3 separate regions of the Homo sapiens genome follow, and all the other regions are linked to region 1. The links come from fine-mapping of genetic effects on gene expression. A gene starts in region 1. Each other region holds a variant in brackets. All regions are shown on one strand. Distances are between the middles of the regions.

Region 1 (2,756 bases):
CAACATGGTGAAACCCCGCCTCTACTAAAAATACAAAAATTAGCCAGATGTGGTGCACGCCTGTAACTCCAGCTACTCGGGAGGCTGCGGCCAGAGAATTGCTTGAACCCAGGAGACAAAGTTTGCAGTGAGCCGAGATCACGCCACTGCACTCCAGCCTGGGAGACAGAGCGAGACTCCGTCTCAAAAACAAAAAGTAAGACATTACCAATATGATGCCAACCCTCATGCACTCATCCCCAACCCCACACTTCTCTTCTCCCACCCCTTCTATCTGCTTTTGTATTTATTTAGCCTATGGGATCCCAATGCAGAGGAGCCCTGGTGGACGCATTTATAGTGCAGCGATGAATAGAAGACAGTGATAGTCTTATACTGGAGTTGAAATGTGATAAACATTTATACACTGTGTTTATAAGTCGTGTAACTCTGGCCAATTTATCTGGTCTTTCTAAGCTCACTTTCCTCGTCTGTAAAATGGGAAGAATAATCATACTTATTGCGCTGGTTGTTATGGGGATTAAGCAAGATAATTCTCTAAAGCTTTGGCACTTGGCGCTGAAAGTAGCCATTCCATGTCTTCTTTCCCGCCCCGCCTCTTGTGCTCCCCACCGCTTTCGTGATGTCCGCAGTTGCCCACCTGCCTCTACAATAAAAAACGCATCCCTCCTCCTGCAGGGTCCACCGCACCGGGAAGCCCTGTCTGTATCAGTTACCAACCACAATTGCAGTGAGTACGAATCGTGGCTTTCCCACAGTCAGGAAAGGCAAGGGAGACCGACGACCCGCTTCTCTAGGAGTAAGTAAAGATTAAAGGTAGTTCGCGGTATAGCCTAGGCAGGGATTAACCCGTGGTCCCAGCGCTCCTGCTATTTGCATTCCAAAGCAGACACCTCATGCGCTCAACCCCGCCCGCAGGCGGCTCCCGCAGTCTAAGGGACCTGGCGCGAGTCCGGGAAGCGGAGGGCGCAGCTGCGCAGGGAAGGGGGCCGGGGGCGGGACCAGGGCGCGCGTTCCGGTCCCGGGGCGTGGCCTCCCGCAGGTGAGTACGCTGCTCCTTCGGTTTCCCTGAAACCTAACCCGCCCTGGGGAGGCGCGCAGCAGAGGCTCCGATTCGGGGCAGGTGAGAGGCTGACTTTCTCTCGGTGCGTCCAGTGGAGCTCTGAGTTTCGAATCGGCGGCGGCGGATTCCCCGCGCGCCCGGCGTCGGGGCTTCCAGGAGGATGCGGAGCCCCAGCGCGGCGTGGCTGCTGGGGGCCGCCATCCTGCTAGCAGCCTCTCTCTCCTGCAGTGGCACCATCCAAGGTGAGAAACCTGGCCAAGGAGGGCTCTTATCTCTGAGGAGCTGGGGTCCTGGGCACGCTGGGCAGACGGTGGGATCCGGGCAGGTGTGCGAAGGCTGTTCTGCTGCCGGCACCCATCTCTACGAATCCCTTAGCCTCCCCTTGGTGGCTTTGATGTGAGGTCTCTGCGCCAAGGAGGCACCCAGGTGGGACATGCGGGAGCAGCTGAAGTCAGCGGAGCCGGGCAGAGGCAGAGATTTCCCCAAAGACCCCACTTCCCGTAGAGGCTGTCATGCTGGGCACCTCCAGGCCCCAGCGTGGGTTCGGGGAAAGGGAGGGAAGGAAGGAGTAGCTGTGTCTAAAGGGTACGCAGAGGACCTAGTCCCCTCCCCGGGCTTGGTTGCTTTGTAAACACTAAGTCATTAAGAGCTTTTTGCCAACTCCGGAGACTTCCTCCGCTGGCCCCGCGGGGCCGGTGGGGTTAGCGAGCTGATTGCGCAGGGCAGGGCGGAGTGGGTGGGAACCCGCGGCCCGGGAGCCTTCTAGGTTGTTTTTTGCGTCCCTCTCCAACTGCTGGAAGCCTTTCTTCGGGTTCTGGCCCCTGCGTTCGAGACCCACCCGGGTCCCGCTGCTCCTGGCACCCACAGTGGAAGGCCCGGGGTATGAAAGTCAGGGCCGGTCCCTGATGGGTTCTGGTGGTAATGAGCGCTCAGGCCCGTTGGGCGCCACGAGGATTTACGAGCGGAACTTTTTGGACCCTGCCTTATATTTGACCAGTTGACCCTCTGGGCCTGGGGTTCCGGGACTTTCCTAGTGTGCCACCCGGAGCGGCCACTGGCTGCCACCCAGGTCTGCAGGCCAGAGGCTGGCTGGCCTGGGAACAGAGCAGCACTTGCGCCCGGCCGTCGCGTTCCTTGGATGTGCTGCTCCGGGTGTGCTCGAACTTGTATTGCTGGGAGTGTGTTCTTCCGGGCCCAGCAGGCCTCGCTGTGGCCGTGGGGGATGTTTGACCTGCGATCGCGCCACTGTGATCCTAACCGAGGCCCCTCTGTTTGGGGCAGCCTGGGTAGCAAAGGGAGCTTTTAATTTCCCTCAGAAATGCGCATTTCTCACTTTTATCCTCCTCTTCATAAAGACGAAGTAAAAGAGCAAGTCACAGTGGGTTGGAATTAGATGGAAGAATGTGATTCTTTTCCCTCTGCAGTTAGGGAAAAGGGTGTTAATGGTGTAAGCTTGAAAACTGTGCACCGCTGGTATATTTTTTTTTCTTAATCAGCATCAGAATAAAGGCATTTAGTTCCAGGAAGTATTGAAAACTGTAATGGACACCTCTCCTCTATGTCCTTTAAAGTTGGAAACTTAAAATTCAGGAGCAAAGGTTAGTATGTGCAAACTTTAAAAAAATACATGTTGGTATAGCTGATTCAACATCTTTATGATTCAGAGATCCCTGTAGGAAGCATGCCCCGATTA
Region 2 (2,756 bases), 20 kb after region 1:
AAAAATTAGCTGGGCGTGGTGGCGGGCGCCTGTAGTTCCAGCTACTTGGGAGGCTGAGGCAGGAGAATGGCATGAACCTGGGAAGTGGAGCTTGCAGTGAGCCAAGATCGGGACACTGCACTCCAGCCTGTGCGATAGAGCAAGACTCTGTCTCAAAAAAAAAAAAAAAAACTAAACAAAAAAGTATAAAAGAAATGATTTGAGAAATTAAAATTATTTGCTAAAGCAAAAGCTTATTTTTTTTTTGAGATGGAGTCTCGCTCTGTCATCCAGGCTGGAAGTGCAGTGGTGTGATCTCAGCTCATCGCAACCTCTGCCTTCCAGGTTCAAGTGATTCTCCTGCCTCAGCCTCCTGAGTAGCTGGGATTACAGGCGCCCGCCACCATGCCTGGCTAATTTTTTGTATTTTTAGTAGAGACGGGGTTTCACCAGGTTGGCCAGGCTGGTCTCGATCTCCTAACCTCAGGTGATCCACCCACCTTGGCCTCCCAAAGTACTGGGATTACAGGTGAGAGCCACCGCGCCTGGCCCAGCAAAAGCTTTTCAAATCGTTTTGTTCTGCCTTTGAAAAGTGGCTTAGAAAACCCCCTGGTCTATCTGAATTAGGCTCCTGATTGGAAGCATGAGGAACTCTGGCCCTAGCGGAGTAGTACCTTGGATGTGGTTGTCTTTGCTCTTGTGTTATATGTCATACTGTGGTCTAATTTCTCTAAACTGAGTCCTAAAATGTCTGAAAATGTAAATACTTTGAACTCCACAGGCTTATGTACTAACAGTGAGGCCTCTTAATTTGAAAGTGAACGAAGATTTGCAGTCCTGATGCTCAGGACAAAGGCCAGTGCTAAACTGACTCGGCTGGAGTTGTTTTATGGGCTTTTTCCTAACGTGTCACCTCAGTGGTTTGCAGCAGGAGTTTCAAACCTGTAATTAATTTCCTGGTTATCAAGGTTTCATAAACTTTAGGGCTATAATCTCATCAGTATGCATAGTTTAGTGATTACAACTTTGTTCCTGAAACATTAACCCTTTGGAGGCCCCTGAGAGGACTATAATTTATTGCAGAATCAAAGGTAGTACTTGCTGTCCTCCGGATCTTGATTAAAATGATAAGTTTTTGCTTGGGTGTTTAGATGTCTTCTCAAAAAGAAGTTTCTGATGTGGCCAGTCCTTTCCTGACCCCCAGTTCTGAAGACAAAAACCAAGCCCTTAGTGATCAGGGATCTAGCCCTACATTTTATTCAAGCCTTGGAACTTCACTGAGATGATTGTCCCACTTAAATGTCAACAATTAGAGTGACTCAGACCAACCTTGGAATGCCTCTCTGGAGGGACAGTTTGAAATATTCCGTGATTTGAGTATGAACTGCTCTTGCCTCTACCAGTGGGTCAATCTATGGACTGTTTCCCAGCCTTTGTCTTTATTGGTGAGAAATTAAGCCTGACCAGAGTTACAGACAACCTCCGGTAAAAACCACAGCCCAAGCCTGCGGGCCCATCAAGAACCCAGCAGCAGTGTGAGTGGTTCAATCCTTCATCCTGTGAAAGGAAAATAAAT[C/T]CTGTGGCCCCAAAATCACTAAGCTAATGGGAAAAGTCAAGCTGGGAACCGCTTAGGGCAAACCTGCCTCTCCTATTCAAAGTTACCCCTCTGCTCACTGAGACAAATGCATATCTGGGCCGGGTGCGGTGGCTCATACCTGTAATCCCAGCATTTTGGCAGGCCGAGGTGGGCGGATCACGAGGTCAAGAGATCGAGACCATCCTGGTCAGGAGTTCGAGACCAGCCTGGCCAACAAGGTGAAACTCCGTCTCTACTAAAAATACAAAAAAAATTAGCCGGGCATGCTGCTGGGTGCCTGTAGTCCCAGCTACTTGGGAGGCTGAGGCAGGAACATCGCTTGAACCCAGGAGGCGGAAGTTGCAGTGAGCTGAGATTGCGCCACTGTACTCCAGCCTGGGTGACAGAGCAAGACTCCATCTCAAAAAAAAAAAAAAAAAAAAAAAAGCATATCTGATTGCCTCCTTTCTAGAGGCTAATCAGAAACTCGAAAGAATGCAACTGTTTGTCTCTCATCTACCTATGACCTGGAAGCCCCCTCCCCGCTTCAAGTTGTCCTGCCTTTCCAGACCGAACCAATGTTCATCTTACATACGTTGATTGATGTCTCATGTGTCTCTAAAATGTGTAAAACCAAACTGCTCTGAGCACTGTGAACCCTAAACATTTGAGACAGTTCTCAGTTAATTTAGAAAGTTTATTTTGCCAAGGTTGACGCATGCCTGTGACACTGCCTCAGGAAATTCTGACGACATGTGCCCAAGGTGATCAGGGCACAGCTTGGTTTTACACATTTTAGGGAGACATGAAACATCAATATATGTAAAATGTACATTGGTTTGGTCTGGAAAGGCGGGATAACTTGAAGCAAAGACCAGAAAAGCAGGGAAGGGACTTCCAGGTCACAGATAGGTGAGAGACAAACTCTCTTGCATTCTTTTGAGTTTCTTCCTTTCCAAAGAAGGCAATCAGATATGCATTTATCTCAGTGAGTGGAGGTTGACTTTGAATAGAACGGGAGGCAGGTTCGCCCTGTGCAGTTTCCAGTTTGACTTTTAACTTTTAGCGCAGTGATTTTGGGGGCCCAAGATATTTTCCTTTCACACCACCTTGGGCACATGTCGTCAGGACCTCCAGAGGCTGTGTCACGGGCATGTGTCCTCAACCTTAGCAAAATAAACTTTCTAAATTAACTGAGACC
Region 3 (2,756 bases), 33 kb after region 1:
TCACACTGGCCAGTGCTGGGCATGCCTGGACAATCAGCCCTGGAATGGCTGCTCTCAGCCTACAGAAGAAGAGAGGGAAGAGGGATGGAGGGGCTGGGGAGAAGTTGGTGAGAGGACACAAAATTTGGGTTAGACAGAGAAATAAAGTTTTTTTTGTTTTTTGTTTTTTTCTGAGATGGAGTTTCACTCTGTCACCCAGGCTGGAGTGCAGTGGTGTGATCTCAGCTCACTGCAACCTCCACCTCCCACTTGGCTTCCCAAAGTGCTGCGATTACAGGCATGAGCCACCGCTCCCCAGCCTCCTCATGGGATTTTTGAGGATGACATAAAGGAATACATTTAAACTGCCTAGAAGGGTGCTTGGCCCAGAGTATGTGCTAATTAACGTTGGCTACTATTATTTTCCTTCAACCCAGTGCCGGTGCAGGTCTAGAGGAAAGCATGAGGTGATACAGGGGCACCCAGAGGCGGAGTGCTCCCAGGAGCTGAGGGGCATCGGAGGCTTCCCTGGAGGACTGGCACCTGAGCAGAGGAATGGGCAGCACAGTGGCAGTGCCACGTGTGCGGCACAGATGGTGCAGAGGGGATGGGTGGGCACACTGCGGGGAGTTTAGATTTAGCCAGGGGATGGCAGGGCCTGTCCAGGAGGTTAAGTGAGGAGCTCAGGTGTGCCTCCCAGCAGGCAGGGGAGGCTAATTTTGAAGAAGAGCAAAGTAGGTGCAGGAGGTGAGTTGGGATCTCATGCAGTAATTCAGGCCAGAAGTGACAAGGGCCTGAACTATGGCGCTAGGGTTGAGGAGGAAGGAACAGAGAGTGAGGAGATACAACCTGGCAACTGATTGCATGAGAGAGAGAGAGGGGCCAGGAATAGCATCATACTCAGGTTTCTGGCCATGCAGTTGGGTGAATGAGGGTATTGCTGTTGACTGGAGCAGCAAAAAAAGGGGATCCCCTCTGGGGTAGAGGAAGAAGGGAGCAGGGGATTGGAAAATGCCAAAATCAGTTTGCTGTGGTTTGGAATCTGAGACTCTGATGTGTTACCTAAGTGGAGATGTCCTGTGGTCAGTTTATTTATACTCTCCTGGGTCCTAGGTAGGATTTAAGGTGACATATGAAGATAACACAAAGTAGAGTAAGATATTATAAATTAAGTAGGAGAGAAAGCAGACAGAAAAGAACGAGATGTAAAGTAGAGGAAGGAATGAGGTTAAATATAAAGTACACAGCAGAAAGCAGAAGTCACAAGCTGGCCAGCATTCGCTGAATTTCCTGTTTG[A/T]GTTGTCCTGCAGTCTTATGTTTGTCTGTTGGGTTTTGGTGGGTTTTGTTTGTTTGTCTTGAGTTGCAGTCTTAAAATCCAGGAATTCTTAAAAATTAAAATTTCTCACTTTTTCTTTTAAAAAAAAAAAAAGTGAAGTTCTGGGAGCTCTGAGCCATATCCCATCTGGCAACGATGATCTGGGTCTGAGAAGCAGTCTCGCCTTCTTGGGAGAGCACGGGCTCTCCAATTTCCCACTGGCCTCCACTCCACTTGGCTGTCTGGCACTGAAGCAGTGTCGGTCCTCTTATCAGCATGGACTATTTCTCTGAACTCACCCTTCTATCAAATGTAATAAAAAAAATTAGTCAAGATATTTTTTTTTTCTTAGTCTCAATTTTGCCTGTTTACACTAGCAGCCTGGCCGTGGAAGCAGGCTGATGCTCCCTGTTCACAACTGCTTTTCATTCTGCTTAGTGCCTCTGTTGTATCTGTTGTTAAATAGTTTGGGCTGGGTGTAATGGCTCACACCTGTAACCCCAGTACTTTGGGAAGCTGAGGTGGGTGGATTGCTTGAGGCCAAAGTTTGAGAATAGCCTGGCCAACATGGTGAAAACCCATCTCTACTAAAATACAAAAAAATAGCCAGGAATGGTGGTGCACACCTGTAATCCCAGCTACTCAGGAGGCTAAGGCACAAGAATTGCTTAAACCCAGGAGGCGGAGGTTGCAGTGAGCTGAGATCCCGCTACTGCACTGCACTCCAGCCTGGGTGACAGAGTGAGACTCTGTCTCAAAAAACAAACAAACAAACAAAAAACAGCAAAGTTTGAACATGACCCGGCTGTAGGTATTTGAGTTTGCAGCATGTGGTAAAATCAAGTATTCGGCCTAGGTGGCTCATGAACTTGATTCTAGGCTTTCTAGCAGCCAAAGAAAAAGAGGATACATTATCTGTCTTATCCTATCTTATCAGCTGGGCTATTCATAGTATCCATGGGATGACTGCTTAGGCAAGTCAGGACTCTTCTCAACACAAGAACCAGAGCAACATTTTTCCCCTGAGAGTCTTCATAGAGAGGGAATGAAAAGTTCAAACAACATTCATCCCAGAGTCGATTCAAGTCTAAGGCTGATGATTCTAGCAGCTTCAAGCAGCATTTCCCTTGAAGCACAGCTGCTTAAACAATTCTAGGAGGGGCCAATGTGATACAGTTCAGACACCTAATTTTCTACTGATCTGGCTATATTAATTTCAGAAACTTTAGAAAAATCTAGAGAAATGCCTGGACTCCCTCCAAATAATCCTCCATAGATGGTCTGAGGATGTGATGCCTGGAATTGCAGCAGTCATCTTGTGACTGTGCGGGGACAAGTCAGAGATGAGAGCTGGCACACAGAAGATAGGGAAGAAGAAAGATAGATCTTGGGCCCTTGATAGCATTGACAAAACACTGAAACAACCAACTTTTATAGTAAGAGATAGCAAATTACCTTATTA

The links.
Region 2: its variant is fine-mapped to the expression of F2RL1 in whole blood (INTERVAL, PIP above 0.99).
Region 3: its variant is fine-mapped to the expression of F2RL1 in whole blood (TOPMed, PIP 0.91).

The regions. Positions count from the first base shown.
Region 1 is chr5:76,817,960-76,820,715 of GRCh38, forward strand. F2RL1 (F2R like trypsin receptor 1) reads left to right here and starts at 1,071. Exons shown (of 2, transcript NM_005242.6): 1 at 1,071-1,305. The coding sequence starts at 1,224. RefSeq lists enhancers at 787-1,404, 1,405-2,022 and a silencer at 805-1,099.
Region 2 is chr5:76,837,773-76,840,528 of GRCh38, forward strand. No RefSeq gene overlaps it. Among named protein-coding and RNA genes, the nearest start is that of S100Z, 11 kb to the right of the region's middle. The variant C/T (reference allele first, on the strand shown) is at 1,556.
Region 3 is chr5:76,850,665-76,853,420 of GRCh38, forward strand. The region is part of intron 1 of S100Z (S100 calcium binding protein Z); the gene reads left to right. Among named protein-coding and RNA genes, the nearest start is that of S100Z, 2.0 kb to the left of the region's middle. The variant A/T (reference allele first, on the strand shown) is at 1,277.